7 linked regions of the Homo sapiens genome follow. The protein of the gene in region 7 purifies or fractionates together with the protein of the main gene of each other region. This does not show direct contact. Each region holds a gene or a part of one and is shown on either strand. Other genes may lie near its edges. The genes, in order: POLR3E, MYH9, PPP1CB, POLR3B, POLR2B, UTP4 and URI1.

Region 1 (4,054 bases), on a different chromosome or scaffold from region 7:
CTCTCTCTCTCTCTCTCTCTCTCTCTCCACCCTGTGCTGCCTGGGGCTGGGGAGGGGGTAAGCTAGGTAATGTAAAATTGTCCCTCCTATCCTCTTTAGTACATCTTATTTCTGTGGTACACCAAGGTGCTGTAATCTCTAGAGGTTCCTTAACTCTTGTGAAGGTATTTTTGTGTGTGGACAGTTGTTTAAATTCATGTTTCTGCAGGGGGATGAGTGCTGGAAAGTCCTATTCTGACATCCCAAGTTCCCTCAATTTTTTTTAAAACAATAGTTCCCTCCTATATTCCTTGTTTCTTTTTCTTGCTATTTGAGTTTGGTGTTTTAACCAGTTCTTTTTATCAATGTAAAGTATTTAAGGCTCTGACTTCTCCACTGAGCCAATTAAGTTCTGCAAGGTGATGGGACTAACATTCTGTGCCGTCCCACATGAGCATTTCCCCTTTCAAAGTGAGAAGGAAGTAGGATGGAAAAGCTGAGACATATTCCAAATCGCTTTTGGTAACTTTACTTTTCAGGTTCACATATGTTAACAGAATCAATACACGATCAACTTGTTAAGTGATGTTACCAAATACTTATTTGGCAAAGTACATCCTTGATCAATGCCTTAGTGATTCTATAGCTAAAATATTAGATGTTTTATTTTGGGGGGAGTGGGGAAATAGCATAGACCGTCATTTAAACCTTCAGACAATTAGTGACTGTGTTGTACAAAAAAGATGGCGAAAGCCTTATCTAGATACCAAAATTCACATGTCATCCAACCTAGCTTACTCTTATTTTTTCCATCAGTTTCTAGGGCTGTGCTATCCAATACTGTCGCAAATAGCCCCATGTGGCATCGGAGCACTTATGATGTGGCTAGTCCAAACTGAGTGTTGAGGAAAGTGTAAAATGCCAGATTTTGAAGACTTTTACCTTATGTTGATGTTTTAGATATTTTGAGCTAAATAATATGCTAACATGACCTTTTTAAACTAATGTGGTTGCTAGAAACTTTCAAAATTATGTACGTGACTCGCCTCTTTCTAGTGGACAGTGCTGCTCTGTCTTCCTCCATTAGCTCCGTTCCCTCTAGATACACGTAACGCTGAGCCCAACAAGATCGCCTTCCTGTAACCATTTGAAGATAGCACCATGATGCTAGTTTAGTGTTTGCATTTATTTTAAAAATACACAAAATAGAAATTTTTACATCAAAGTGTGATAACCTCACTTACACATTGTTCCATACTTACCTGGTTTTGTTTGCATCTTTCTGCAAACATTAAAAGGAGATGGATTTGATTCTGATTTTTTTGCTATGGTTCATGTAAACAGTTGAGACTGCTACATAAAGTAGGTTGTTGTCAAAGGTGAAGTGGCCACAGAATCCCAAGAATAGAATAATTCAATTTGGTTTAATGAAATTGGTGGAGGTCTTAGCAGATAGATAATCCAAGACTAAATATTGTCTTCTAGGCATTTTAAAAATTAAGAACTTTGAGGTTTTCTTCATGTTGTAAACATAACTTAGACCTTGTTGGCATTAAGTTTACAAAAGAAAATATTAAACCATGATTTTTATCATCCTGCCCATGTCAGTATACACTCTCTTTATTATGAGAATGAAACCAAATAATAAGCAAAATACATCAGGAATTTCAAATTGTACTGCAAAGAAGGTCCCAGCTGGTCTCTTCTGGGAGTGATCTAACTAACTTAAGCTGACCCTGCGACTGGCTGAGGATAATCCCTTCTGTCCACTGCACCGTGCAATGCCACAGGTCATGAGATGGTCAGTTCCTCTTGCTCTGTGTCGTCTGAAGCAAGTCGAGGCCCTACTTCTGGTTCCGCCCTTCTTCCTTGGGCTTAGATTTGCTGGGTTAGTAGTTTGCTACTATTGTCAAGACTGTACTGTCCCTTTAAGGTACCACATGCCACCATAGCTTACACAGCAGTCCTATGAGAGAGAAACAGGGTAAGCACAGATTTTTGCAGGAAAAGGAGCTAATTACATTCTGTCCACAATGTCAACACTCGATTTATGATTAGTGAATAGAATACAAATGGGAAATCAAAAACTGCCTAACCATACCACCATGGCTACTACCAGCCACCCTTTCCTCAGGGGTAGTGTTTTTTTTTTTTTTTGAAACAGAGTTTTGCTCTTGTTACCCAGGCTGGAGTGCAACGGCATGATCTTGGCTCACTGCAGCCTCTGCCTCCCAGGTTCAAGCGATTCTCCTGCCTCAGCCTCCCAAGTAGCTGGGATTACAGGCATGTACCACTACGCCTGGCTAATTTTGTATTTTTAGTAGAGATGGGGTTTCTCCATGTTGGTCAGGCTGGTCTCAAACTCCTGACCTCAAGTGACCCACCCACCTCAGCCTCCCAAAGCGCTGGGATTACAGGTGTGAGCCACCGCGCCTGGCCATTCCTCAGGGGCATTTTAAAAGTGAGGGTGGGCCAGGCATGGTGGCTCACACCTGTAATCCCAGCTACTTAGGAGGCTGAGGCAGGAGAATTGCTTGAAACTGGGAGGTAGAGGTTGCGGTGAGCCGAGATTGTGCTACTGCACTCTAGCCTGGGCAACAAGAGCAAAACTCCATCTCAAAAAAAAAAAAAAAAAAAAAAAAGGGGGTCTACGAAATACAGATACTGACATGCCCAGAACAAGGGTGCTTAAAAAACAGTATTACTTATATGGCTCTGGATGTTTAATCAAAACAAGACATTGTCATCAGTTTTCTGTCTCTCAGTGTTGCTGCAAATATGGTTGGTATTTGTACTACAGTCACTTCAGAAAAGCATTATAGGTTGTACATTAGGTGCTTTCATATAGTAAACAGATCATATTCCTTTTTAAACTAAATTTAAGAATGGATTCTACTGAAAGTCATGTGTGTGGCTATGGCAACAATCAGAAGATAGTTCAAAATTCAAGGGAGAGTAGAGTGAGGATTCTCAACTAGGCCCTATCATTTTAGAAGACGCCTACCCACTGCCAAGCTCATCCAACCTACCATATTTTTTTGTTGTTCTATTGTTTTAGGCTCTTAGCAGCCTGAAGCCATGGTTTTTAGTTTCTGTCTCTAGTGACAAGCAGAGAAGAGGGATGAAAGGGGCATTACTGGCCTGGCCCAACCAGAAAGAGAAACAAAGCATCCATGGCTGTATTCTTTCCCTTGGACACCACTGTGACTATATTGTTTGAAGGGGTCAGTCCTCTGGCACATACCCCCTTCCCCAACCAATGCCAATCAATCAATCATTAACAGTTGCTCAAGACAAGACTGACTGGGGAGTGGTCCCAAGGAAGCCTGATTTCATATACACAAAGACACTAGAGTCCCTTCTACACACTGTCAGCCCCTTCCAGAGCCTTTGATATTGTTTGTTATGCACAAAATGGATGTACCTTTAGTACTTTATCCACCTCCTGTTTACTGAGATCTTCTCCACACTCTTGAGTCAACCGAGACTGGATCATGTTTCGGCGTACCCGGTAATTTTTGGAAAAAATTTCAAGCAAAACCTGTCGATGCTTTAGTAGCAAAAACACGTTATGATGGGAAACAGTGATCTAAAAAGAGAAACATCCCCAAACAAGACACCCAAGCCATGCACCTGACTTTGTGTTGCAGTCTCTGATAAAAACCCTCACGCAGCACCTCTGGTTAAAGATGAGCCAAGTCATCTCTAGAGACCCAGCAAGACAGTGTACAGAAATAAAAACACAAAAGTAAAGGCATTAATGCTATGTCTGGAAACTTGAATATAAATAAAAACAAAGGTATATGCCAGCATAACAAAAGAACTGGTGAAGAGACATGAGAGGATGAGTGGCTTGAACATATTTCTGCATGGTAAAATGCAGGCGTGCATCGGACTTAGCAAGCAGGTGAAGCGACAATCTAAGCTGCACGGAGATGAGAAGAGGGTGTCAAAATTGGTGTGAAGTCTTAATGCACAAACATGCCACTGCATCCATGAAACAGGATGCCGTAAAATACGTTACACCCCAAAATAAAAATGGAAAAGATTGGATTCAGTATGTCTAATATCTGTC
Region 2 (4,054 bases), on a different chromosome or scaffold from region 7:
CAGACTCTGGAGAACGAGCGGGGGGAGCTGGCCAACGAGGTGAAGGTGCTGCTGCAGGGCAAAGGGGACTCGGAGCACAAGCGCAAGAAAGTGGAGGCGCAGCTGCAGGAGCTGCAGGTCAAGTTCAACGAGGGAGAGCGCGTGCGCACAGAGCTGGCCGACAAGGTCACCAAGCTGCAGGTGAGGCCTCCGCCAGGACCCTGGCGCGGGCAGTGGGCCCTAGCAGCAGTTGTGGCCCAGGTCCCCAGGTGCATGTGTGCTCTCTGTCTCTCTCTCTTCTCAAACTGGCTCCTCAGACCCTCATGGTTCAGCTTGTGACTCAGGTCCAGCTTTACCTAAAGGAGATGAGGTGGGGCAGGAGCAGTGGGGGTGGGTCCATGGTCCTTTGTGTCTCCCCGCCCGGTGCAGGTGGAGCTGGACAACGTGACCGGGCTTCTCAGCCAGTCCGACAGCAAGTCCAGCAAGCTCACCAAGGACTTCTCCGCGCTGGAGTCCCAGCTGCAGGACACTCAGGTAGGGGTGGCGCCAGGTTCCCAGAAGGTGGACCCCTCCAGAAAGGCCTCTGTGTCCACGCAACATTAGCTTCAGAGCCCATCGGATTGCCCATCCTCTCCTTCATCTGCTTCATCCTGTGGGTGGGTCTCTGCGTCCTCCCAGCTCCCTCCAGGTCTTTACGTGGCCATCCCCTAAATCAGCAGGACCAGCTCCTCCCTCTCCTCAAGGGTGTGGGGTTCCTGGGTTTTGGACACCACCCTCCTAAGCACCCGCACCCCTCTCAACCCGCGAGTAGGAGCTGCTGCAGGAGGAGAACCGGCAGAAGCTGAGCCTGAGCACCAAGCTCAAGCAGGTGGAGGACGAGAAGAATTCCTTCCGGGAGCAGCTGGAGGAGGAGGAGGAGGCCAAGCACAACCTGGAGAAGCAGATCGCCACCCTCCATGCCCAGGTTTGGAGGCCTGGGGGACCGGCCGGACTCTGCAGGCTGGGGAGCTGCTGGCCGGGCACTGGCCTGGGCACTGCAGGACAGCCCTGCCCGCTGGGCCGGCCCATTGCTGCTCTCCCCCTGGGAAGCCAACCGTGCTCTCCCACATCAGTGCTCTCAAGGAAAGGAATCCAGGGATCTGTGGACTTAGATGGGGGACACCACTATTTTCACTATTTTACACCTTTATTTTCACCAGTCTTTAGCTGAAATTCAGCATTGCTTCCATTATGGATGTAGGCAGCAAGCCATGGTGGTGGCAGTCCCTGTGCCGTCATCATCTGTAGAAATGGCCAGTTACCCTGTCAGGGTTGTGGCCGAGCTCCTTGGCCTCATGGGTCCCAGGCCTGCGCTGTTTGTTATCTGATGTGCTATCTAGCAGCACGTGGCTTCCTGAGCCATGGTTTTTTAGAATGTGTGACAACTGCATTTTTCTGTACTGGTTGCCCTGCTGATCCCATGTTTATTTCATGCCTGTTACAACATTGTCATGAGAAGGAGTCCCTTGGCCTCTCTAGACTGCGAAGGGGTCCGTAGCCTAATATGGTTTCAGAGCCCCTGCTCTAGATCCTATCTTGGGCCTCCATGTGCCAGGCCAGAAGGCCTGAACCACCTCGGGATGGGCTGGGAGTCCATTCCACAGTCAGGGTAGGAGTAGCCCGCGAGCGTGCCTGATTGTGGGTTTATCTCCAAGTGCAAGGATGGGGCTGGGTGATGGGGACCCCGTGGACACCCTACAGGGCACTGGCCCTGCTCTCTGGGAGCAGTCTCCGTAGAGCAAGAGGCTTGGTGTGGATGTGGGCTGGGAGCCCCCACAGCGGGCCTGGGGGTCAGCCTCCCCCGGGCTTCACACAGTAGACAGATGCCCCTTTGCAGAAGCTCCATTTGTCTCGCCCCTGTGGAGAGGGAAGTGACTGGGGGAGGCGGTTTCATAACTGGGCAGATCCCTGGTGCCCCTTCCACGGTGTGGCAGGCAGGCTCCCAGCTGCCCCAGGGACGGGTGTGCCACCTGAGCAGGTGCCATCTCGGGCATCTGCTTACTCCTTGCTCCTGCCCAGGTGGCCGACATGAAAAAGAAGATGGAGGACAGTGTGGGGTGCCTGGAAACTGCTGAGGAGGTGAAGAGGAAGCTCCAGAAGGACCTGGAGGGCCTGAGCCAGCGGCACGAGGAGAAGGTGGCCGCCTACGACAAGCTGGAGAAGACCAAGACGCGGCTGCAGCAGGAGCTGGACGACCTGCTGGTGGACCTGGACCACCAGCGCCAGAGCGCGTGCAACCTGGAGAAGAAGCAGAAGAAGTTTGACCAGGTGTGTGGCCGTTGGCCCCATCCTTTGCATTTCCTCTCCTTCAAGCACTGAGTCCAAAGCAAAGGGCCCATCAGAGAAAGCCTGGGCTCCCTCAGGGTCTCGCCGGGGAGGGGCCGTGCGGGGCCAGTGCTTAGAGGACCCTCAGGCTCTGGCTTGTTGAGGGTCCCAGGGAGAAGGCCAGCGGAAGAGGGCGTCTTCATGCGATGGGTTGAGGAGTGACTTTTCCTTTCTGATTTTTTACATTTTTCAGATTTTCTCTAATGAACTGGTTTGACTGTCTTTTTTTTTTTTTTTTTTTTTTTAATTTTTTTATTGATCATTCTTGGGTGTTTCTCGCAGAGGGGGATTTGGCAGGGTCATAGGACAATAGTGGAGGGAAGGTCAGCAGATAAACAAGTGAACAAAGGTCTCCGGTTTTCCTAGGCAGAGGACCCTTTGGCCTTCCGCAGTGTTTGTGTCCCTGGGTACTTGAGATTAGGGAGTGGTGATGACTCTTAAGAGCATGCTGCCTTCAAGCATCTGTTTAACAAAGCACATCTTGCACCGCCCTTAATCCATTTAACCCTGAGTGGACACAGCACATGTTTCAGAGAGCACAGGGTTGGGGGTAAGGTCACAGATCAACAAGATCCCAAGGCAGAAGAATTTTTCTTGTACACAACAAAATGAAAAGTCTCCCATGTATACTTCTTTCTACACAGACACGGCAACCATCCGATTTCTCAATCTTTTCCCCACCTTTCCCCCCTTTCTATTCCACAAAACCGCCATTGTCATCATGGCCCGCTATCAATGAGCTGTTGGGTACACCTCCCAGACGGGGTGGTGGCCTGGCAGAGGGGCTCCTCACTAACCAGTAGGGGCGGCCGGGCAGAGGCGCCCCTCACCTCCCGGACGGGGCGGCTGGCCTGGCGGGGGGCTGACCCCCCCACCTCCCTCCCGGATGGGGTGGCTGCCGGGCGGAGACGCTCCTCACTTCCCAGACGGGGTGGCCGCCGGGCGGAGGGGCTCCTCACCTCTCAGACGGGGCGGCTGCAGGGCGGAGGGGCTCCTCACCTCTCAGACGGGGCGGTTGCCAGGCAGAGGGTCTCCTCACTTCTCAGACGGGGCGGCCGGGCAGAGATGCTCCTCACCTCCCAGACGGGGTCGCCACTGGGCAGAGGCACTCCTCACATCCCAGACGGGGCGGCGGGGCAGAGGCGCTCCCCACATCTCAGACGATGGGCGGCCGGGCAGAGACGCTCCTCACTTCCTAGATGTGATGGCGGCCGGGAAGAGGCGCTCCTCACCTCCTAGATGGGATGGCGGCCGGGCAGAGACACCCCTCACCTTCCAGACTGGGCAGCCAGGCAGAGGGGCTCCTCACATCCCAGACGATGGGCGGCCAGGCAGAGACGCTCCTCACTTCCCAGATGGGGTGGCGGCCGGGAAGAGGCTGCAATCTTGGCATTTTGGGAGGCCAAGGCAGGCGGCTGGGAGGTGGAGGCTGTAGCAAGCCGAGATCACGCCACTGCACTCCAGCCTGGGCTCCATTGAGCACTGAGTTAAAATCACTTTAATTATCATTATATCATTACATTATTATAATTATTTAATTATAGTTTGGGTTTTTTTAAAATAGTTTGGGTTTTTTTTTTTTTTTTTTTTGGAGACTGTCTCTGTCTGTTGCCCAGGCTGGGGTGCCGTGGTGCAACCACAGCTCAAGTGATCCTCCCACATCAGCTTCCTGAGTGGCTGGGACCACAGGCGTGCACCACCACCACACCCA
Region 3 (4,054 bases), on a different chromosome or scaffold from region 7:
AATACATTATTTGAAGCAGCCTAGTTGATTGTGATGCTAGCTCATTAAACAATAAATCTTGACTCTGAAATTCTTTTTGAGACAGAATTTCACTCTTGTCGCCCAGGCTGGAGTGCAATGGCCTGATCTCGGCTCACTGCAACCTCCACCTCCCAGGTTCAAGCAGTTCTCTTGCTTCAGCCTCCCAAGTAGCTAGAATAACAGGTTCCTGCCACTGTGCCCAGCTAATTTTTGTATGTTTAATAGAGACAGGGTTTCACCATGTTGGCCAGGCTGGTCTTGAACTCCTGACCTCTGGTGATCCGCCCACCTCGGCCTCCCAAAGTGCTGGGATTACAGGCGTGAGCCACCATACCTGGCCTGAAATTCTTATCTAGACCCTGTTAAGGTTAAAGAATTCCAGATTGTTGTTGCTACCATTATTTGATTTTTTTAATGCATCCAGAGTGTCATGTTTCCTAAACCTCAAACTCTATTCTAATTTTATACAGTTTTATTGTCTCACTGAAATTATAGATTCTTGAGATCGAGACCATCCTGGCTAACACGGTGAAACCCCATCTCTACTAAAAATTCGCTGGGTGTGGCAGTGGGCGCCTGTAGTCCCAGCTACTCGGGAGGCTGAGGCAGGAGAATGGCATGAACCCGGGAGGTGGAGCTTGCAGTGAGCCGAGATCGTGCCACTGCACTCCAGCCTGGGTAACAGAGCGAGACTCCGTCTCAAAAAAAAAAAAAAAAAAAAAGAAATTATAGATTCTTAATACCTTAGCTTTCTACTGGAAAGAGGCTGGAAAGTATGAAAGCATTATTAAGCACTGGGTGGGTGTATATTTTCGAAGAGTCAGCTTCAACCAGAAAGGGCTTAAGAATTGAGACTGACTATTCCAGTGGATTTTGTGTGCTAGTGAATTTCTTAAAACAACATACAGGGAGCTTGGGATATATCAATGATAGAGATTGAATACATTGCCACTAATTCTACAAATGGTTTTATAATGCCTCTATCAAGATATGATGTACTGTAACTGAAAATGAAGATGCCCTTTCCTCCTAAACCATACTATGATGTTTATGGATTATTTAAAATTCTTAAAACTGACTTAACTCTTTAAAAATTATCTTCTTGGCTGGGCGCGGTGGCTCACACTTGTAATCCCAGCACTCTGGGAGGCCGAAGCGGGCGGATCACGAGGTTAGGAGATCGAGACCATCCTGGCTAACACAGTGAAACCCCATCTCTACTAAAAATACAAAAAATTAGCCGGGCGTGGTAGCGGGCACCTGTAGTCCCAGCTACTCGGGAGGCTGAGGCAGGAGAATGGCGTGAACCCGGGAGGCAGAGTTTGCAGTGAGCAGAGATTGCACCACTGCATCCCAGCCTGGGCAACAGAGCGAGACTCCGTCTCAAAAAAATATATATGTATCTTCTCTTAGCCACTGCAATTCTTAGAAAATCACCATCACCATCTCAACATCCACCCTTCTTTTAATATCACTACAGTTGGACTTTTACCCACTCCGTTACCCTCAATCACCAAGAAACTTGCATTGAGGTCTGATGATTTAATTGTAAGTGGCACATTTTTGGTCTTCGTCCTACTGCCCTTGTTCATGGCACATTTCCTACTTTAGGACGATTGTTTCCCCTTTCGGGATACGTTTACTATACTAAGCCCTTTGTCTTGATCATTCCTTCTCAATACCTAATGTTCATTCTCCCTCATCTACCTGCCTATTAAATGTTTGAATTCCTCAGAATTCATTTGCTGGTCTTCTCACTTTGTATTCCTAAGGTGGTCTGAGTCCCTCTTAAGATTTCCACTACCATTAATATGATGACAATACTCAAGTAAATATTTTTAACCCTGACCTCTTTTCCAGGGCTCCAAACATTACCAAAGTCAAGGATCTGATCTGATTTTGTTCTTCCACATTTAAAAAAAAATCCTCAGGGTCTCAGTAGAAAATGTTTTTTTTTCGCTCAAGTGATCTGTAGATCAAATACAATTCCAGTGAAATCACAATTGAGTTTTTTATGGAATTAGGCAATTGTTTTTAATGTTTATGTGGAAGAACAAAAGATCAAAAAGTAACCAAGACAATCCTGAAAAAAAAATGGAGGATACTAGCCCTACCAAATATAAAGACTTATTAAAAAGCTCTAGTCTGTTATTGGCTCAGGGATAAGTAAAATAGACTAACAGAATAGACTGTGGTGCTCAGAAACAGTGGAACCGTAAGGAAAGGATGAACTGTTGAGGAAATACCACTGGGTTGTTTGGTTATTCATATGGAGAAACTACCCAAAAGATGAACAGCCTTTTCCATGTATTGTTGTGCTGTAAGTGCCATGCACATATTTCCTATATGTGGAAAGGGTTGGAAAGTACTACCTTAAGAGGCCATGGAAGATTATATTTGTATGGTTTGTATGGTTGCTTTAACAAAAGTATAAGTTACATAGGCTGGAATACTTAGGCAAGTGATGGTCATTGTTTAGTAAAAGGTAAGAGGGCAAGAAAGGAACTGAAATTTGATGTAGATGTGCTATATTCTATAAATCTGTAAATTTTGTTCTTAATTGCTGTATTTCTGTCCTTTAAAGGTTTGCTCTGTGATTTGCTATGGTCTGATCCAGATAAGGATGTGCAAGGCTGGGGAGAAAATGATCGTGGTGTTTCCTTTACTTTTGGAGCTGATGTAGTCAGTAAATTTCTGAATCGTCATGATTTAGATTTGATTTGTCGAGCTCATCAGGTATGAAATATAAAACTCTTAAGCTTTTTCTTTTTTCTTTCTTTTTTTTGGGGGCAGACGGAGGGGCAGACAGATTCTTGTTCTGTCACCCAGGCTGGAGTGCAATGGCGCAATCTCTGCTCACTGCAACCTGTGCCTCCCGGGTTCAGGCAGTTCTTGTGCCTCAGCCTCCCAAGTAGCTGGGACGATAGCCGTGTGCCACCACACCTGGACTCTTAAACATTTATTATTTGTTAACTTCACATAAGCCCTCTCATTTTGTTTTGAGGAAACATATCCAAGAAAGCTAAATGAGTTGTACAAGGAAAGCAGTAGGAGAGGTGGCAGAGCCAGTTCCTGGATCTCACACTTAACAATCTAGTGATTTGTTAACCTTTTATCACCCTAAAAGAGGAAATGTTTAGAAATATTTTGGGGCTGGGCATGGTGGCTCACATCTATAATCCCAGCACTTTGGCAAGCTGAGATGGGTGGATTGCTTAAGTACAGGAGTTTGAGACCAGCCTGGGCAACAAAATGAGATTCCATCTCTACAAAAAAAATCAAAAATTTAGCTGGGTGTGGTGGTGCGTGCCTGTGGTCCCAGCTACGTGGGAGGCTGAGGTGGGAGGATCGCTTGAGCCTAGGAGATCAAGGCTGCAGTGAGCCATGTTTATGTCACTGCTCTCCAGCCCTTGTGAAAGAGCTAGACCCAGTCTCAAAAAAAAGAATGTATTTTTGTAGTATACAGCAAACCTAACAAAATTTTCAGTGCTTCTTTGAAGCTTTGTAGATATGATTTAGATTTTTTTTTTTTTTTTTTTTTTTGAGATGGAGTCTCACTCTGTCACCCAGGCTGGAGTGCAGTGGCACAATCTCTGCTCACTGTAACCTCCGCCTCCCAGGCTCAAGCGATTCTTCTGCCTCAGCCTCCGGAGCAGCTGGGATTACAGGCACGCACCACCACGCCTGGCTCATTTTTGTATTTTTAGTAGAGACAGGGTTTCACCATGTTGGCCAGGCTGCCCTTGAACTCCTGAGCTCAAGTGATCTGCGCCTCAGCCTCCCAAAGTGCTGAGATGACAGGCGTGAGCGTGAACCACTGTGCCCAGCCTCATTTTTATATAATCTTTGTGCATAATGGCGATTTTGATAAGAGCAAACCACACTTTAAAAAAGTATTTTTGAGACCATTGAAGAATTTGATTGTGGCTCAGTGCAGTGGCTCATGTCTGTAATTCCAGCACTTTGGGAGGCTGAGGCAGGCAGATCCTTTGAGCCCCAGGAGCTGGAGACCAGGCTGGGCAACATGACAAAA
Region 4 (4,054 bases), on a different chromosome or scaffold from region 7:
GGTTACGTGAGACAATCCTTCAAAAAGAAAAAAAATGTAAGAATGTGTTTGTTTTCCAGCAGGAATTACAGTATATGAAATATGTGTTTTCACTGTGTCTAGTGATACATATTATTAACAACAAACCTGTTTGAGAGGGCAGTAGCAATATTTGGATGTAAAAGGCTGTTTCTTATTTGTGTAACCTCATAATTTGGTAACTTCTTTGGCCAAGTGACGAAAGTTAAAAATACACGGCCACAAACTCTGGCGTGGAGTTTTTCTGCTTTTCTTTCTGTTTTTGACAATACTTTCACAAGTCACCACCTCGTGGTTTGTTAGACATCACCTGATCTGAAGTCTGACTTCTCTATTCATAATCTCGATTTCTCTTTTTCCTTCCTGGCGTACCCACTATGCCTTCCCCTTCCCTCTTTGTAGTTGCTAGGCAGCCATAATAGTACTCCTAGACATGTGTCTTTGGCATTAATGTTGGCCACACTTAATTTATGCCTCTTTTTTTCCTCCAAATGACAACAGCCATGCTTTAAAACTAGATGTTTTCCTTTCTGATTAACTGGTAACGTTTATGTGGAAATCTGAAGACTTTGTGATGTCTGTCAGAAACTCTGCAACCCAATTCAGTGATCTGAGTTTACTATCCCCTAGCTTTTAAGCTATCACCTGTAAATAAAATGTCTGTTTACACTTTGAAGAAAACACTTCTTGATTTCATGCAGTTAAGATTCACATTGCACTCCAGCATGTTGCAGTTAATGGCTACTGTATGAAATTTCAAGATCATGTAATGTTTCCAAACCAGCTGGCATTCTGAGCCGAGTTTATTATGGCCATACACAATTTCCTAGGAGCCATGATGACTACGGCCTTGCTTAAAGACACAAATGTCTTCATCTGACGTCCAATTTTAGAAATTCGTTACTTCATCTCACAGTCACCTTCATATTTAAAAAATTACATTACAGCCCTGAGATTTTATTTATAAATCCACTTTTACCTGATTGATTTCTAAAGTCACATTCTTAGATTTCTGTTTTTGGTGGAAAATTGTTAAGTGAAGGATTTTACTGCCATGCATTTATTTCATCAGTAATAAGCGGCATTTAATCCTGAGACATTTCTTATTTAAGTGAACTCTGGCATGGCTCAGTATATCCTGAGGAGATTAGTAAGAGAATCCAGTTTAAAATAACTGCTTGGCCAAAGGGAAAAAAGAAAGAAATGCAGCCACAGAATCAGGAAATTATAGTGTTGAAGGAATGACAGCTGTTTTGGGTAACTCTACAACTCATGGATTTTTTCTTTTAGGGATTCAGTGGTTGAGTTTTTTTGCCCCACCCAAAGGTTTTTCTTCTGTCCTTTTTGCTTATTTTTCTTCCTTTTCTTTTCTGATCCATTGCTAGACAGCTTATTTTTCTTGATGTTTAGATTGTTAGTTGATTTCACAGCCTTTCCCTCATCCACTAGATAAATGCAATCTAAAAATGTAATTAAACTCCAATCTTTAGGGCAGAGGAGAACTATTTTTCCCATTGAAATAATTTGATTATTTCTTTTTTCATTCTGTCTCTTCTCTGGAGAAAAATTATTGTTTTTACTTGTTGGCTTAGAACTTGCTCTAAATGCCAAATTTTAAAAAGGAAAACTTTCCAGGGAAGTTTAGCAGAAGTTATGCACCAAAAGGATGTGTATCCTGGCTCAGGAGTCAGTGGACTTGTGCTGTTCAACACAATTCTCAACTCTGCTGCCAACTTTTTGGATGACCTTGGCCACTTAATTTCTCTAGACCTCACTCCTAGTGCCTGTAAAACAGATAGGTTAAGCAGGTGATTTCTAAGGGCCTTTCCAATTCTAATATTCTATGGCTCTGTCCTCTGAAAGAATCACAGCGCCAGTCTTAGATTTCTCTCACCGTTCTCCAGTATGACAAGGTGTATTCCATGCAGAAAATGGTTGTAGAGATTCCAGTGTTTACACAGACAGTAGGTAGGGGACAAGTCCTGTGCTGCTTCTTCAGATTATCAGATTTTTATTTGGTTTGTACTGGTCCCAGATTATTATCAAATACAGAGAAGTTTTGGGATTTGGGGGAGGGTGAGGTGGAGTGGATTGTTGAGTAGCACAAATCCATATTTCCTTATAGCTTTGGGTTACTGGTGGTTCTAATGCCCATCTTGGTTTCATTTTAGGCTTTGGGCGTTGCCTTGTATATAAAAATGCTAAATGTACGTTGAAACGATACACCAATCAGACTTTTGATAAAGTGATGGGGCCCATGTTGGATGCTGCTACAAGGAAACCTATCTGGCGACATGAAATCTTAGATGCAGATGGTATTTGTTCTCCAGGTAAAAGCCTTTTAAAAGAAAAAATTTTAATACTTTTTGACATCATATGTTATTCAATAATATTTCTGAATATTTGGCAAAAAGGGCAGAAAAAAGTAACAACCTATAAAACCACCATCCAAACTCAACCAATGAGGTCATTTTTGATGAATTTCCTTCCAGTCTGTTTTTCTATACACTATGTTTTTACCTATCAGTAATCTATGCTAACTATAATTTTCTAGTTATAATTTTGAATAATAGAAAAGCCACTTTAAGGAAATATTTAGAGTAGTTTATGTCCCTGCATCTGCACTGGTATTTCTTCATTTACACATTTAGCTTACAGACTACTTTAGAATTTTATCCCCCTGCAAAGGTATGACTCCATTATAATTACAAACTTGTAATGCATTTTGTTGATGAAACAAATAGCCCTTGCCCTTATGGGTCTCACAGGCTAGTGCAGGAGACTGACATTGATCAGAGGATCATGCATAAATCCAGGTTAAGGAATCATATAGGTAACTATGAGGCCATTTTATAGCAAGAGAATTTGACCTTGTTGGGAAGATCAGCATGGCTTTCCCGAGGAAGTGAGCTGGAATCTGAAGGATAGGGAAGAGTTAACTAAAGAAGAGGATCAGGGAGCATGTTCTAAGTAATGAGAAAAGCTTGTGCAAGGGTCCCAGAGCTTGGTAGTTGAAAGGTCTGAAAGAAGACCAGCGTGGCTAACAAGAAGAGAGTGCAGGGAAGCATGGTGCACATGAGTTGGTGGGTGACGCAAGGGGTAGGGGCCAGAGTAAGCAAGTCCTTGCAACCATGTTAGTATTGTCTTTATTTTATTTTATTAATTTTATTTTTGAGACAGGGTCTCAGTCTGTCACTGAGGCTGGAGTGCAGTGGCACAATCTCAGCTCACTGCAACCTCTGCCTCCCAGACTCAAGTGATTCTCCCACTTCAACCTCCTGTATAGCTGGGACCCATAGGCACGTGCCACCATGCCTGGATAGTTTTTTGTATTTTTTGTAGAGATGAGGTCTTACCATCTTGTCCAGGCTTGTCTTGAACTCCTGGGCTCAAGTTCTCCACCCACCTCGGCTTCCCAAAGTGCTTGAGCCACCATGCCGAGCCCATGATACTATTTTCATTATGATCCTAAAAGCAATGATATATTCAGATATGTGTTTTGAATGATCATTCTGACTACAGTGTAGAAAAAGGATTAGAAGGGCACTAAAATAGAAGGTAGACCTGGTACCAGGAGCTGTGGTGAAGGTGGAGAGAACCCAGTTTGTGAGGAGGGAAATCCACATGACTTTGTCATGGTTGGCCTGTGGGCGGTGAATGCTTTATCAAGCTGTGGTTCCAAAGAGACACAGAGTACGCGACTTCTCCTCCCTCCCTCTGCCTTTGTTTCTTGGAGAATTTTTCTCACCCTAACACTGGTCAGTATGGCTTGGAAAATACGCGCTGTGACAGTACTACAGGTAGTTGGTCTTTGAACTTACCAGGAAGAGATACAAAGCAAAAATGGGAATAACAGCATAACCAAAGAAATATTTTGATTTCCTTGTTGCCCAAGTTAAATTGGTGGTGGCTTATTACTGGTTGAAATAACTATAAATAAAAATAAGTGACCAAAACTTAACACCCTAAGAGATATATAAAATTGCTATTTACTGAGATGATGTTTCTCATGTTCATGTAGTACTCTGAATTATTT
Region 5 (4,054 bases), on a different chromosome or scaffold from region 7:
AAAAAGCCACACAATAGAAACAAGACACCAAGATATTTAATTATCTTGTTGACTCCTGTAAAATAGCTAAACACTCATCATTCGCGGTGCAATACTCATAGACATAAGTTCCTGAAACAATAGTTTGCATGCGTAAGGCATTCGCACCAAAGAAATCTGAAAAGAAAAAACAAATGGTAATTAGCAGAATTGTATTGAAGTGACCCCACTTCTCTACCCCAGAAAAAGACAAAGATCTGGTACTGTAGATAATGAATAAATGAGTGGAGCTGAGAACACACATTCTGCTACCTCAGCTTATGGTGGTTCTTTCTCCTAGTAGGCTTTGGTATTTTACCCATTCTGCCAGACATAATTTATATTCACCCACCTCAACTAAAAGGTTTTCAAAAACTCATTGTTTAAAATCCCTTGTACAAAGTCTTATTATTTCCAAAAGATGAATAGCTTAGAGAAATTACCACACTAAAACCTAAACTGGTTTTTAGAAAAATCAAATTATCTTTTCCTTATTTAGAACTCGGAATCTCACAGAAGCATGCTATCAAAATTGTGAAAATGCCAATCTGTTCTGCCACACTAATTCTGCCTGGATAATCAGACCAACACAGTTTCCTCTAAACAAATATCAACTGCCAGTAAAGTCTATACACACCTGGGTTTTATTGCGGCAGCCCCTGCATTCATATGTATGGGTCCTGGTGTTGGCAATCGCCATTATTCCACAAAGATTGCAAACATGAACCTGATATGGATCTGATGCCTCAAACAATCTTTCCCTTAAAAACTGGGCTGCTCCATGGGCAATCTGACAATCTCGTTCCATTTCTCCAAAACGCAGGCCACCATCACTGTTAAGAGAAAAAAATTATTACTTTGTACTTATTTTTTATTATAAACACCGCCTTGAATAATGGCAAAGGTGGAGAATAATATTTGCAAAGACGGATAACTAGGCTCTAATTTTTATACCCTAGCATTCTCTCTATTGGTGGGGAGAGGAGAAGTCTACCAACTATTTGACGTGCATTAGAAAGTCCCCAAATGGGCTAAGCAAAGTGGCTCACCCCTGTAATCCCAGCACTTTGGGAAGTGGACTGGGTGGATCTCTTGAGCTCAGGAGCCTGGGCAACATGGCGAGACCCCATCTCTATTTTTTAACAAATAAAAATAAAAACAGAAGGTCCCCAAATGGAGTGGATACATTAGATTCTTAAGTAGAGCATTTAATTTTCCTCATAAGACACAATAAAGCATAGAGTGGAGGTTCATCATGCTATCATTTAACTTTCTAGAATTCAACTCTATACTAAAAAAATGAATAATGAAAAAGACAATCTAAATAAGGCAGCTTGTCAATGGAATGACTGTCCCAGGCAATCAACCTTGAAATCATAAATACATGTTGGCTGAAGTAATGGAAAGAACAGGTAAATGATAATAGGTTTCCCCAACATAAGAAGTGAAATAAATGCATTATTCAGATGGCCAGGCAAATAGATGGTGATGGCTTCCTTAACATACTTAATATCCAAAATATACAAAATAAAACCAATGGGTTTATAATGATATTCCACCAAAACAAAAAAATCATTGGTCGACTTTGGACCACTGATCTGGATCATTAGACAACCAGCTCACTATTTTGAAAACTGGTAAATAAAAAAAGAGAATCAAGCATTTATTCCTGCCCTTACTATAAGAACTACATCACTAGGTAACCAAACAGTTGAGGAAACAAAGTTTTAGAAGTAGTCTGGCTAAAAACTGAAGAAGGACTGAGAAAAAATAGAATGGTATCAGTTGGAAATCGCCATTTAATTAAGGTCTTTAGTAATAGCTGCTAAAATCATAAAAAGAAAGGCAACCAGATACTGGAAGTATAGAATACCACCTATAAAGTATTACTGCCAAAAAACTCAAACGCTAAATCTCAAGCCTCAAGATCTATTTACAAAAAACAAAAAACAAACAAACAAACAAAAAACAGCAATGCACAGCATTTGGGATGCAAGCAGCAAAATTCAGTCTCAAGCCCTGGACAAACAGTCCAGGTTGTTCAACAAACAAATTACAAGGGGAAAAAAAAGGTTGGAAGGCAACCAATAAATTCAAAAAAGGACTTATGAGACACTATCAATCAATTGCAAAGCATGGACCTTATCTGTATACTGATTAAAACCAACAAACCTTTAAAAAACTTATGTGATAATCAGGGAAATGTAAATCTGGATATTTAATACTAAGGAGGTACTGTGGTTAGGTTTAGTGTCCTAATCTTTTAGAGCAGAGGTTCTCAGAGTGTGGTTCATGGACCGCCTGAGAGTCAAAGCTATTTTTAATAGTAATACTAACAACATATATTTGCTTCTTTCACTGTGTTTACATTTGCACTGATGGTGGAAACATGAATAAAACTGCTGACACCTTAGCAGAACTCAGGGTAGCAGAACCAAACATTACTAGCAGTCATATTCTCCATTCAAGTGAAGGGGAGAAAAGCCAGTTTTACTTAAAAATGTCCTTAATGAAGCAGTGAAAATAAATAGTTTTATTAAACCTTAACCCTTGAGTATACATCTCTTTCATATCCTGTGACTTTTAAAAAAATGAAAGTCCTCAACCAGGCACGATGACTCACACCTATAATCCCAGCACTTTGGGAGGCCAAGGTGAGAGGCTGGATTGAGCCCAGGAGTTCAAGACCAGCCAGAGCAACACAGTAAGACCCAGTCTCTATATAAAAAATAAAGTAAAATAAAATGGAACACTTCATAAGCACTTCTACTGCATAGTGAAGATGACTGTCTTGAACAAAAGCACTTGCATGATTCTGAACTAGTCCCTTTTAACATGGAGTATCTTTTTTACTCAAATAGCCAGCTGACACCAACTATGTTAACTCATCAACATGTTAACACCCATGATGTTAATTCAGACTTAGAATTAAGTTGACGATGTTGTAGATATTTGGCAGACAAAGAAATGAACAAAAAGAAATGAAAGCAAACGAAAAAAGTAAGTCTTTGAGGAAAATAATTTTAAGTATTTGTTGAAAATGATGAAAATTGTGAGCTTCAAGCAAAAATCAGAATTTTAGGAAACTTCTATGCACCACTATGGGCTTGATAGCTTCCTGATATATTTAAAGGCTTTTCTAATGACATCAGTAGTCATATTAACAAATGCAATTTTTTTATTATAATGAAGTGTGTTAACATTTGAAAATCTACGTAACTCAGCAAACCAATATTTTCCAAATGACCAATTAGGATGCTACAAAATATGCATGTGTAAAAGATACATCTGAAGTACAAGACAAACCAATGAACTTCAAACATAAATACAGAAGGTTCATTCATATGGTTTCAGTTTCTACATCAAAACCAACCTTTGAGAAACTACAACTTACCGTTTTGGTGTAGTATCAAAAAAATATCCACAGGCCAGGCGCCTTGGCTCATGCCTGTAATCCCAGCACTTTGGGAGGCCAAGGCAGACAGGTGGATCACTTAAGCTCAGGAGTTTGAGACCAGCTGGGAAACATGGCAAAACCCTGTCTCTACTAAAAAATATAAAAAATTAGCTGGGCTTGGTGGTGCATGCCTGTAGTCCCAGCTACTTGAGGCTGAGATGGGAGGATCACCTGAGCCTGGAAAGTAGAGGCTGCAGTGAGCTGTGATTGTGCCACCACACTCCAGCCTAGGCAACAGGGATGAAACTGTCTCAAAAAAAGGGAAGGGGTGGGCTGGGCGTGGTGGCTCTTGCCTGTAATCCCAGCAATTTGGAAGGCCAAGGCAGGCGGATCACTTGAGGCCAACCATTTGAGACCAGCCTGGGCAAAATGGTGAAACCCTGGCTCTACAAAAAATACAAAAATTAGCTGGGCTTGGTGGCGCACACCTGTAATCCCAGCTACTTGGGAGGCCGAGGCACGAGAATTGCTTGAATCCGGGAGGCGGAGGTTGCCGTGAGCCGAGATCGCACCACTGCACTCCAGCCTGGGTGACAGAGTGAGACTGTCTCACAAAAAAAAAGCCAAAATATTCCTCTC
Region 6 (4,054 bases), on a different chromosome or scaffold from region 7:
GCATTACAGGCATGAGCCACTGCTCCAGGCCCATTGATCTGTTTTAAAGCACCTTTGTTCATCACTCCATGCTTCAAAGCCTCTGGTTATCCCTGTTGGCTTCAGCATAAAGACAGTTTCCTTAGTGTGTCTTATAGAACCTGTCTCCATCCAGGCCTGGCCCTTCAGCTTCTTTTTGCACCTCTCGTGCTTGTAGCACCCCCACCCAGGCTAGCCATTCTCAAGGTCTTTTTGTTCCCTCAAATACTCTTACCTTTGAGCTATGTCACATGCCATCACCCTCCTCAGAATGTTCTGCCCTGCCTCCTTCGCCTGACTGGTCTTTCCCAGTGAACCTCATCTGGGCTTCTGTATTTACCACCACACAGCTAGGTTAGATGTCCTGTCTCCTTATTTTTCAGTACATACTGTGTTTAGCCGTGTTAAAATTCTTGGCACACTGAAGTCTAATTGCTGATTTAATTCTGTGTCACCCCTTTAGAAGCATGTTGAGAGCAGTAGCTATGTTTTAATTCATCATCGTCTTCATAGATCTCAGGGCAGTGCCTGGCATATGGGAGTACTTAGGAAATATTTATCAAGGAAATGGATTTCAGCAGTAAAAAATGTGCTAAGGTGGTGCTACTGTATCTGGTACTAAGGCAGTAGATGACCCTGACTTATTTTTTTAACTTCTTGATTCTTGGATATAGCGATGTCTCATCTCCTGTTCTAAAAAGAGGCAGCTTCTCCTCTTCCAGTTTGCTCATCACTTAGAACTTTGGCGACTGGGATCCACAGTTGCAACAGGTAAGATGGGAGCACGTTTTTTTCAATAAGAAAACTGGAGAGAGAAGCCAGAAATCAGAATTGCGGTTGGAATTCTGCTTATAGAAAAACTGAAGTAGACTTTTGTGTCCATTTTAACTAATGGTTTTCCCACCCATTAGATAAAGCAAATAAGCTGTTTAGAGTATTAGAATCTTTAGCAGGATATTGGATCATCTCTTAAAAGTTTATGGCTCTAGGTGGTGCGCTGCAGGGTGTAGTCAAGGTAAGGGTTGAAGAATCGTAGTTTGCGCTAGCTTAACTGAGGTGAAAACAGGCTGTTGAAAAACAACAAGATTTAATGATGGGTAATGATAATCCTGTAGAAAAAGAAGATCACATGGATCTTATTGGAGTGACAGCCTAGTGGCCTTTTTGACTTATTAAGGAAATGTTTGAGTCCTCTCATTTGCAGTGGATTAAAATCGAGGCCACACAAACTCCACCTGTGTCCCTGGCTATGGACTAGAGCTTCAGGGAATTAGTGATGTATCAGAGGATAGAAGCAAAAGAAGTACTCACTGCTTTCTCTTCATATACCCCTCAAAAATTGTGAGCTTACTCAGTGAGCTTGTATTTTTCTGATTTCCCACTGATAGAGATTCCATTTTTCCAAGGAGTAACTTTTTAGAAGAAAAATGTACAAATACTCTTTCTTTCATAAGAAAAATCTCAGGGAAGTTTCTTGTTTCAGGCAAGAATGGGGATACTCTTCCACTCTCTAAAAATGCAGATCATTTACTGCACCTAAAGACAAAGGTAAGGAAGTTTGTTTAGGCTCTGAATTCTAGAGCCTGAATTCTAGGCTCATAATTCCCATTCTGAATTTTGAGGTTACTTAGTTTGCATCATAAATTGTATAAATTCTAAAACTATTTGAATGAAGGACTGTGTCACCAGGACTGGGTTTCCTGTGATTATAAGTAGGACGTTGAGGATTTATTAGATGGATGTATACAGGAAATAGGTTTCTCTTCTTTTGATATTATTATGAAAATAATGTGCTTTTATTTATTTATTTATTTATTTATTTATTTATTTATTTTTGAGACGGAGTTTCACTCTTGTTGCCCAAGCTGGAGTGCAATGGCACCACCTCAGCTCACCGAAACCTCCGCCTCCTGGGTTCAAGCGATTCTCCTGCTTTAGCCCCCCAAGTAGCTGGGATTACATGCATGCGCCACCACGCCCGGCTAATTTTTTGTATTTTTAGTAGAGATGGGGTTGGTCAGGCTGGTCTTGAACTCCCGACCTCAGGTGATCCGCCCGCCTTGGCCTCCCAAAGTGCTGGGATTATAGGCGTGAGCCACCGCGCCCAGCCATGTGCATATTTTTAAAAACTCAAATAGTACAAAAGGGTATACAATGAAAAAAAAATCATTTTGTGAGTTTTTAAAAACTACATACATGTTACATTCAACTTTTCTTTATTCTCCAGATTCTTTTTTGTTTGGTTAGTTGGTTGGTTTTTTTGTTTGTTTGCTTACTTTTTTGAGGCAGGGTCTCATTGTGTTATCCAGGCTGGAGAGCAGTGGCACGGTCACGGCTCACTGCAGCCTCAACCTCCCAGGCTCAGGTGATCCTACCACTTCACCCTCCCAGGTAGCTGGGACTACAGGTGTGCACCACCATGCCCGGCTAATTTTTTGTAGAGTCAGGGTTTCACCATGTTGTCCAGACAGGTCTTGAACTCCTGGGCTCAAGCAATCCTCCACCTCAGCCTCCCAAAGTGCTGGGATTACAGGCATGACCCACTGTACCTGGCCTTCAAATGTTCTTCATTTGCTATTTCTTAGAAGTCTTTAAAGCAGAACGCCGTACACAAAACAGAAAATAAGTACTTCAAACCACCTATCCTCCAGAGCTTTCCTTCAGTAAATGCCTCCCTGCTCAGGTTTCTGAAGTTGGGGTCTAGTATGAGGCTATCTATGAAGTATTCAAAGGGCCAAAATAAGAATAGACCTCCATTCTTGGATTTGGAAATCAAAGCCATGCCTTTTAGGTGCTCTGCCTCTGAAATAATCATATTAATGCAGACCACACGAGGATCGAGATTATGTGTAGATATCTGTGGGTATGTCCAGAGTGGCAAGAGCTTGAGGCGTCATGTCCCAGTGCACCTTGTTATGTGAAGTTTAATTGCACATTCATCTTGATTCCTGATATTGCCAGGGTCCTGAGAACATTATCTGTAGCTGTATCTCCCCATGTGGAAGTTGGATAGCCTATTCTACAGTTTCTCGGTTTTTTCTCTATCGGCTGAATTATGAACATGACAACATAAGCCTCAAAAGGGTAAGTGATAGTCCAATATCTGGTCACATAAGAGGAAACTTCCTAAATATGTCATTTTTGTGTGAAGTGGAAATCAACTGGATGTGAATCCTTGCTCAGTTAAAAACTATTTGGAGATTTGGAGAAGGCTGTTATGAAACAGTGTTTTATTTCTTTCTTTCTTTTTTTTTTTTTTTTTGAGACGGAGTTTTGCTCTTGTCACCCAGGCTGTAGTGCAATGGCACAGTCTTGGCCCACTGCAACCTCCGCCTCTTGGGTTCAAGCGATTCCTGTGCTTCAGTCTCCCGAGTACCTGGGATTACAAGCACCCACCACCACACCTGGCTGATTTTTGTATTTTTAGTAGAGATGGAGTTTCACCACCCGTTGGCCATGCTGGTCCTGAACTCCTGACCTCAAGTGATTCACCCGCCTCAGCCTCCCAAAGTGCTGGGTGCTGGCATTACAGGCGTGAGCCACCGCACCCAGCCTTTTTTTTTTTTTTGACCGAGTTTCACTCTTGTCACCCAGGCTGGAGTGCAATGGCACCACCTCAGCTCACCGCAATCTCTGCCTCTCGGGTTCAAGCCATTCTCCTGCCTCAGCCTCCCGAGTAGCTGGGATTACAGGTGCCCACCACCAGGCCTGGCTACTTTTTGTATTTTTAGTAGAGATGGGGTTTCACCACGTTGGCCAGGCTGTCCTGAACTCCTGACCTCAGGTGATCCACCCCCTCAGCCTCCCAAAGTGCTGGGATCACAGGCATGAGACACTGCGCCCGGCCCACACCCAGCCTTTATTTCCATTTTGAAATTTTGAGGTATGTTCTTAGAGGGATAGGGTAATGCCCTACAGGCAATAAAATTAAAGCTTTTCTGTTTAGTGGTTTCACGTGCGACTTAGTTATTTCCTTGATAGAGAAGTGAATATTTAGTAAAGAGATGAAAGGGGGATGTATAGATTACTGGAGAGA
Region 7 (4,054 bases):
GAATCCATGCCCAAACTTAATATTCCTCTATTTTCTTGATTTTAGAGGTGAAAAGCCAGGCATCCTTCAAGCTAGTGGATCTTTGACAAAGATGCATTGCAAAACAATCAACAAACAATCAGAAAGGCATGCTATGTGTGAGTGATGATCCCTGCAGCATATGCCATAGGCTTGTTGTAGAGGAGCTGCTCAGTAAATGGTGGATTCAATTGAAACAAGTCTTTTTTGGATGCTTAATGGGAAGTTGTAGGGTGGGTATGATGGACTAAAAATTATTTCTAAAGAAGGTTATATATTGTATATATTCCAGAATCTTCCGTTTTTATCGTTTCTTAAATTAAAAAATAAAAATTTAACTCTGTCCCAGGTTAACTCAGATGTTAACACTTATATAGAAATTTTTTTCCTCTTTCCCCGTTAGGCATCTCACAGTATTTTCTGCTTGTCTGTTTAGGATGTTAGGTAGAGGAAAAGAGAGTGATAGAAGATTTTTTTTCTTAAAAAAAAAAAAAAAAAAAAAAAAAAACTGGGCCAGGCATGGTGGCTCACACCTGTAATCCCAGCACTCTGGGAGGCCGAAGCGGGTAGATCACAAGGTCAGGGTTCGAGACCAGCCTGACCAACATGGTGAAACCCCGTCTCTACTAAAAATACAAAAATTAGCCGGGTGCGGTGGCGCGTGCCTATAATCTCAGCTACTCAGGAGGCTGAGGCAGGAGAATCGCTTGAACCTGGGAGGTGGAGGTTGCAGTGAGCCGAGATCACGCCACGGCACTCCAGGCTGGGTGAAAGAGTGAGACTCCATCTCCAAAAAAAAAAAAAAAAAAAAAAGTTCAATGTTAGTATTTGCTGTCTATTTTAACTTCTTACTTTAAAGTAAAATTAGCAAAGTCTTATTGTTTCAACCTGATTTAAATTTTATCTCCCTTTTTTATTATTTAAAGGTTGGAGTCTTTATCACTGGCCTCAAAGGATGTAGACTTTTTTTTTTTAATAGAGATTTTTATTTTTGTCAGTCACTTTTAAGAGGATTAAAAATGTTGATCCCTTTCATATTTCCTCGTCCCTTTAAAAATATTCTATTATGACAAATTTCAAACATATGGAAGAGTGAATCTTGATCACCTATCTGTCTGTACCCTAATCCGTTAATCCATTTTTTTCTGATGAATTTCAAATTAAGTTGTGGACATCTGTGTATTTCACCCCTAAATACTTGAGCATATCCCTCATTTAACTTGATTTCTCTCTTACTTTCTACAATTTTATGCAAATGAGCTGTTTCCCATAGGTTCTGTCTTGATCTTAATCCTTTAAGGGTAAGGGCTAACTTGTGGTTGTGTTAATGGTCTTCATCGCTGCTGCCTATTTTTTTTTTTTAATTTCCTTAAAACAAAAGGTACTCTCAAAAGGCATATTGCACATGATTAGCAAGATTCAGAAGGAAGTGGTTAAAGTTTCTTACATGCCTTATACCTATGCTTTTAGTTCTTGTTTTGTATAAGGAATGTTGCATGAGGATATTGGAAAAAAATTTAAAATTAAGAGTTGAAGGCGGAACCTGATCTATAAGGATCCATTATGTTGAAGCCAAAGAAGCAGGTCTAGCTATTCTAAGTAAGTAGGCTGGAGAGGTGTTTCTTAACTCTATCTGGGTTTTGTTTTCCATTTGAAGAAAAATTATTTTAAGCAATTACCATTTTTGATTACTGTAATGACTCCTGTGTCCAAAAATTAATTACGTTTCTAATTATTAAAATAGAAAAAAAAATCTGTTCAAATTTTGTTATAAATAAAGACCCCAGACTTAACCTCAGTAATGCATTAGTTCTTAGCATAACTTTTGCATTTTCTGTTGCATAGGCTTTGTGATCTTTAACAGGATTATTTAAGCCTGAAATAATAGAGATACTATTTGGAGATCACTGTTTGACTAAGCCCTGAACATTTCCACGAATGTAGCCTTTAGAGAGAGAGGGTTCCTCAAGCTGTAGTTTCTTCCAGAGACATTGCTTGACTCCTCCTGGCCTCCCTTCATAAAGGATTTCTACATGGGCTGCATTTTAAGTGATCTTCTACTTTTGTATTTTTAGAAAATAATTCAAAATTTATAAATAGCAACTCTAATCTTAAACTGCTCTCCAGTATGTCCGCATTTTTATTCCAGAGAGAATTATTAATAAGTTGAAAACTGATTATATTTGACTTGAAATATTGACATTGATCTCTGGTATTGCCTGTTTTTGAACGTACTGTTCTTTTAATGTACAAAATAGATGTTTTTTGTGAGGAAGTTGTTTTTTTTTCTCCTAAGCATTGTTACCAAAATAAGACTTATTGAATGGTGACTTTAATACTAGCTTCTTAATATTCATAGAAATATTTAGATATCTAGGCTGGTGTATTTAGTCCTTGAGCATTTGCAGAATTACTTATCTGAAACATAAATAAGCTGTTAGTGTTATGTTATTAATAGTGAGTGTTGACTGTCTAGGCACTGTACCAGTCAGTCCTATGGAGACATTCTCCCATTGATTGCTCACACCAGTCCTGTTTCCAAAGCCCCTGAATGGTTACATTCAGCTGTACTGTCTTTCAGCAAGTTATACTATTTGTATCAAATTGGTTAGTGAAATCTTGTAGGTAATAGTCTTTCTTGAAAGTTTTGGAATTGATGTTTTTTGATGCTTCATGAAAAAAATGAGTTTTGAGTTTTGGAACCAAAATAGTAGTTGCTCCATGCTGGGCAGTGTGTTAGACCTTTTATATTTAATTCTGTTGAACCTGTGAGATAAGTATTAGTCCAATTTTGCCATTGAAGTTACTAAGACTAAGGTGAATTTGTGTAAATTGCATGTAGAGCTTGGGATTCACTCTCTGGTCTGACTTCAAAGCCATGTTCTTTCTGGTACATAGCCTTGTGCATGAAGTTTTTTTGCCATTTTATCCATATAAAAATTTTCCAGGAGGAGGATTTTTGCCTTAAACAAAAGAATAAAACATGTTTCGTATTTATTTATAGAAAAGGATTTTTTTTGGGGAAAGTTATAAAGCAGTTGCACACTAGAAAATGAGAAAGCTTTCATGAAGGAATGCAGGTCAGAAGACCTAGCTAGGTTAAACTCATTGCTTACCTCATCTTGATAGAGGAGATCTGGCTTCTTGCTATGTGGTTTTTCCATCTTCCTTCTACTTTGTCTTCTGTAAGAGAAAAATACTGATAAGTGACATTTATTATAGGTTATGTAAAATAATATATATGTGAAATTCCTTAAGATCTTAAGACTGAGCTAATTTTTTTTTATTAATTATGCTACTGTTGCTTCAGGGAACTAAGCAGTAAGCTGAAACCAATTCTGTGATGTTTGTCATTTATATTATCTGGAGAGTTGTTACCTACATTGCAGTTTATCCTGATTTCAATTTGACAATGTCTACATGTTCTTTTAAATTACTTGCTGAGTTGGTGAATTTTTGTTTCTGTTATTTTTAAAAACTGACAACATCCTTCTGCTTAAAAAAAATTCAGTGCTGTAGTTTTGCTTGCAGCCTGTATCTTAGCAGGGAACCCTTTGGAAACCCAGTCTCCAGAGAAAGTTTGACGGGCATCTTGGCATAGGCTGCTGCCTGGTATTACTCAAAAAGAAGGGCTGTTCATTTCCAGCAGGTGTTAAGAGCTGAGTAAGGCCCATAGCATGGAAATACGATCATCTCTGCCCCTACAGAGTTACATATACCTTTTGGTTGTTTGAAATTACTTATTTGGTAGCTCTGTTTGATGTAACAAGAAACAGACTCCTAGGCCAAATTGAAACGCCTTTTGTATTATCTCTACTTAATTTCTTCTACCCCCAGTTGATTCTCTCTTACCTTAATCACATTATTATGAATAATTGAAGAGCTGATGATGCATTTTTCAGCCTAAGGTTTTCTGATGAGGACTAAAGCATCTGATCAAATTTCATGTTCATGATTTCAACTTCACAGCCAGTATCTATTCACTCAAAAGCTTTATTAAATCTCTTCTTTCGGCCGGGTGTGGTGGCTCATGCCT

What was found.
Region 1: the proteins of URI1 (region 7) and POLR3E purify together in Homo sapiens (affinity purification with mass spectrometry; 4 studies listed by BioGRID and IntAct, with this or other methods). This does not show direct contact.
Region 2: the proteins of URI1 (region 7) and MYH9 purify together in Homo sapiens (co-immunoprecipitation; one study listed by IntAct). This does not show direct contact.
Region 3: the proteins of URI1 (region 7) and PPP1CB purify together in Homo sapiens (affinity purification with mass spectrometry; 3 studies listed by BioGRID and IntAct, with this or other methods). This does not show direct contact.
Region 4: the proteins of URI1 (region 7) and POLR3B purify together in Homo sapiens (affinity purification with mass spectrometry; 4 studies listed by BioGRID and IntAct, with this or other methods). This does not show direct contact.
Region 5: the proteins of URI1 (region 7) and POLR2B purify together in Homo sapiens (affinity purification with mass spectrometry; 3 studies listed by BioGRID and IntAct, with this or other methods). This does not show direct contact.
Region 6: the proteins of URI1 (region 7) and UTP4 purify together in Homo sapiens (co-immunoprecipitation; one large-scale study listed by IntAct). This does not show direct contact.

Annotation. Positions count from the first base shown.
Region 1 is NC_000016.10:22,331,535-22,335,588, reverse strand, and holds the end of POLR3E (DNA-directed RNA polymerase III subunit RPC5), read right to left. Parts: intron 3,530-4,054; coding exon 3,404-3,529; intron 1,946-3,403; coding exon 1,889-1,945; 3' UTR 493-1,888; downstream 1-492. UniProt on the Homo sapiens protein: DNA-dependent RNA polymerase catalyzes the transcription of DNA into RNA using the four ribonucleoside triphosphates as substrates.
Region 2 is NC_000022.11:36,290,218-36,294,271, reverse strand, and holds part of MYH9 (myosin-9), read left to right. Parts: coding exon 1-180; intron 181-408; coding exon 409-513; intron 514-790; coding exon 791-943; intron 944-2,037; coding exon 2,038-2,286; intron 2,287-4,054. UniProt on the Homo sapiens protein: Cellular myosin that appears to play a role in cytokinesis, cell shape, and specialized functions such as secretion and capping. Required for cortical actin clearance prior to oocyte exocytosis. Promotes cell motility in conjunction with S100A4.
Region 3 is NC_000002.12:28,786,053-28,790,106, forward strand, and holds part of PPP1CB (serine/threonine-protein phosphatase PP1-beta catalytic subunit), read left to right. Parts: intron 1-2,605; coding exon 2,606-2,757; intron 2,758-4,054. UniProt on the Homo sapiens protein: Protein phosphatase that associates with over 200 regulatory proteins to form highly specific holoenzymes which dephosphorylate hundreds of biological targets.
Region 4 is NC_000012.12:106,454,949-106,459,002, forward strand, and holds part of POLR3B (DNA-directed RNA polymerase III subunit RPC2), read left to right. Parts: intron 1-2,189; coding exon 2,190-2,348; intron 2,349-4,054. UniProt on the Homo sapiens protein: Catalytic core component of RNA polymerase III (Pol III), a DNA-dependent RNA polymerase which synthesizes small non-coding RNAs using the four ribonucleoside triphosphates as substrates.
Region 5 is NC_000004.12:57,027,001-57,031,054, reverse strand, and holds part of POLR2B (DNA-directed RNA polymerase II subunit RPB2), read right to left. Parts: intron 852-4,054; coding exon 656-851; intron 283-655; exon of another isoform or gene 157-282; coding exon 67-156; 3' UTR 1-66. UniProt on the Homo sapiens protein: Catalytic core component of RNA polymerase II (Pol II), a DNA-dependent RNA polymerase which synthesizes mRNA precursors and many functional non-coding RNAs using the four ribonucleoside triphosphates as substrates.
Region 6 is NC_000016.10:69,152,892-69,156,945, forward strand, and holds part of UTP4 (U3 small nucleolar RNA-associated protein 4 homolog), read left to right. Parts: intron 1-692; coding exon 693-789; intron 790-1,501; coding exon 1,502-1,566; intron 1,567-2,979; coding exon 2,980-3,102; intron 3,103-4,054. UniProt on the Homo sapiens protein: Ribosome biogenesis factor. Involved in nucleolar processing of pre-18S ribosomal RNA. Part of the small subunit (SSU) processome, first precursor of the small eukaryotic ribosomal subunit.
Region 7 is NC_000019.10:29,980,114-29,984,167, forward strand, and holds part of URI1 (unconventional prefoldin RPB5 interactor 1), read left to right. Parts: intron 1-45; exon of another isoform or gene 46-137; intron 138-4,054. UniProt on the Homo sapiens protein: Involved in gene transcription regulation. Acts as a transcriptional repressor in concert with the corepressor UXT to regulate androgen receptor (AR) transcription.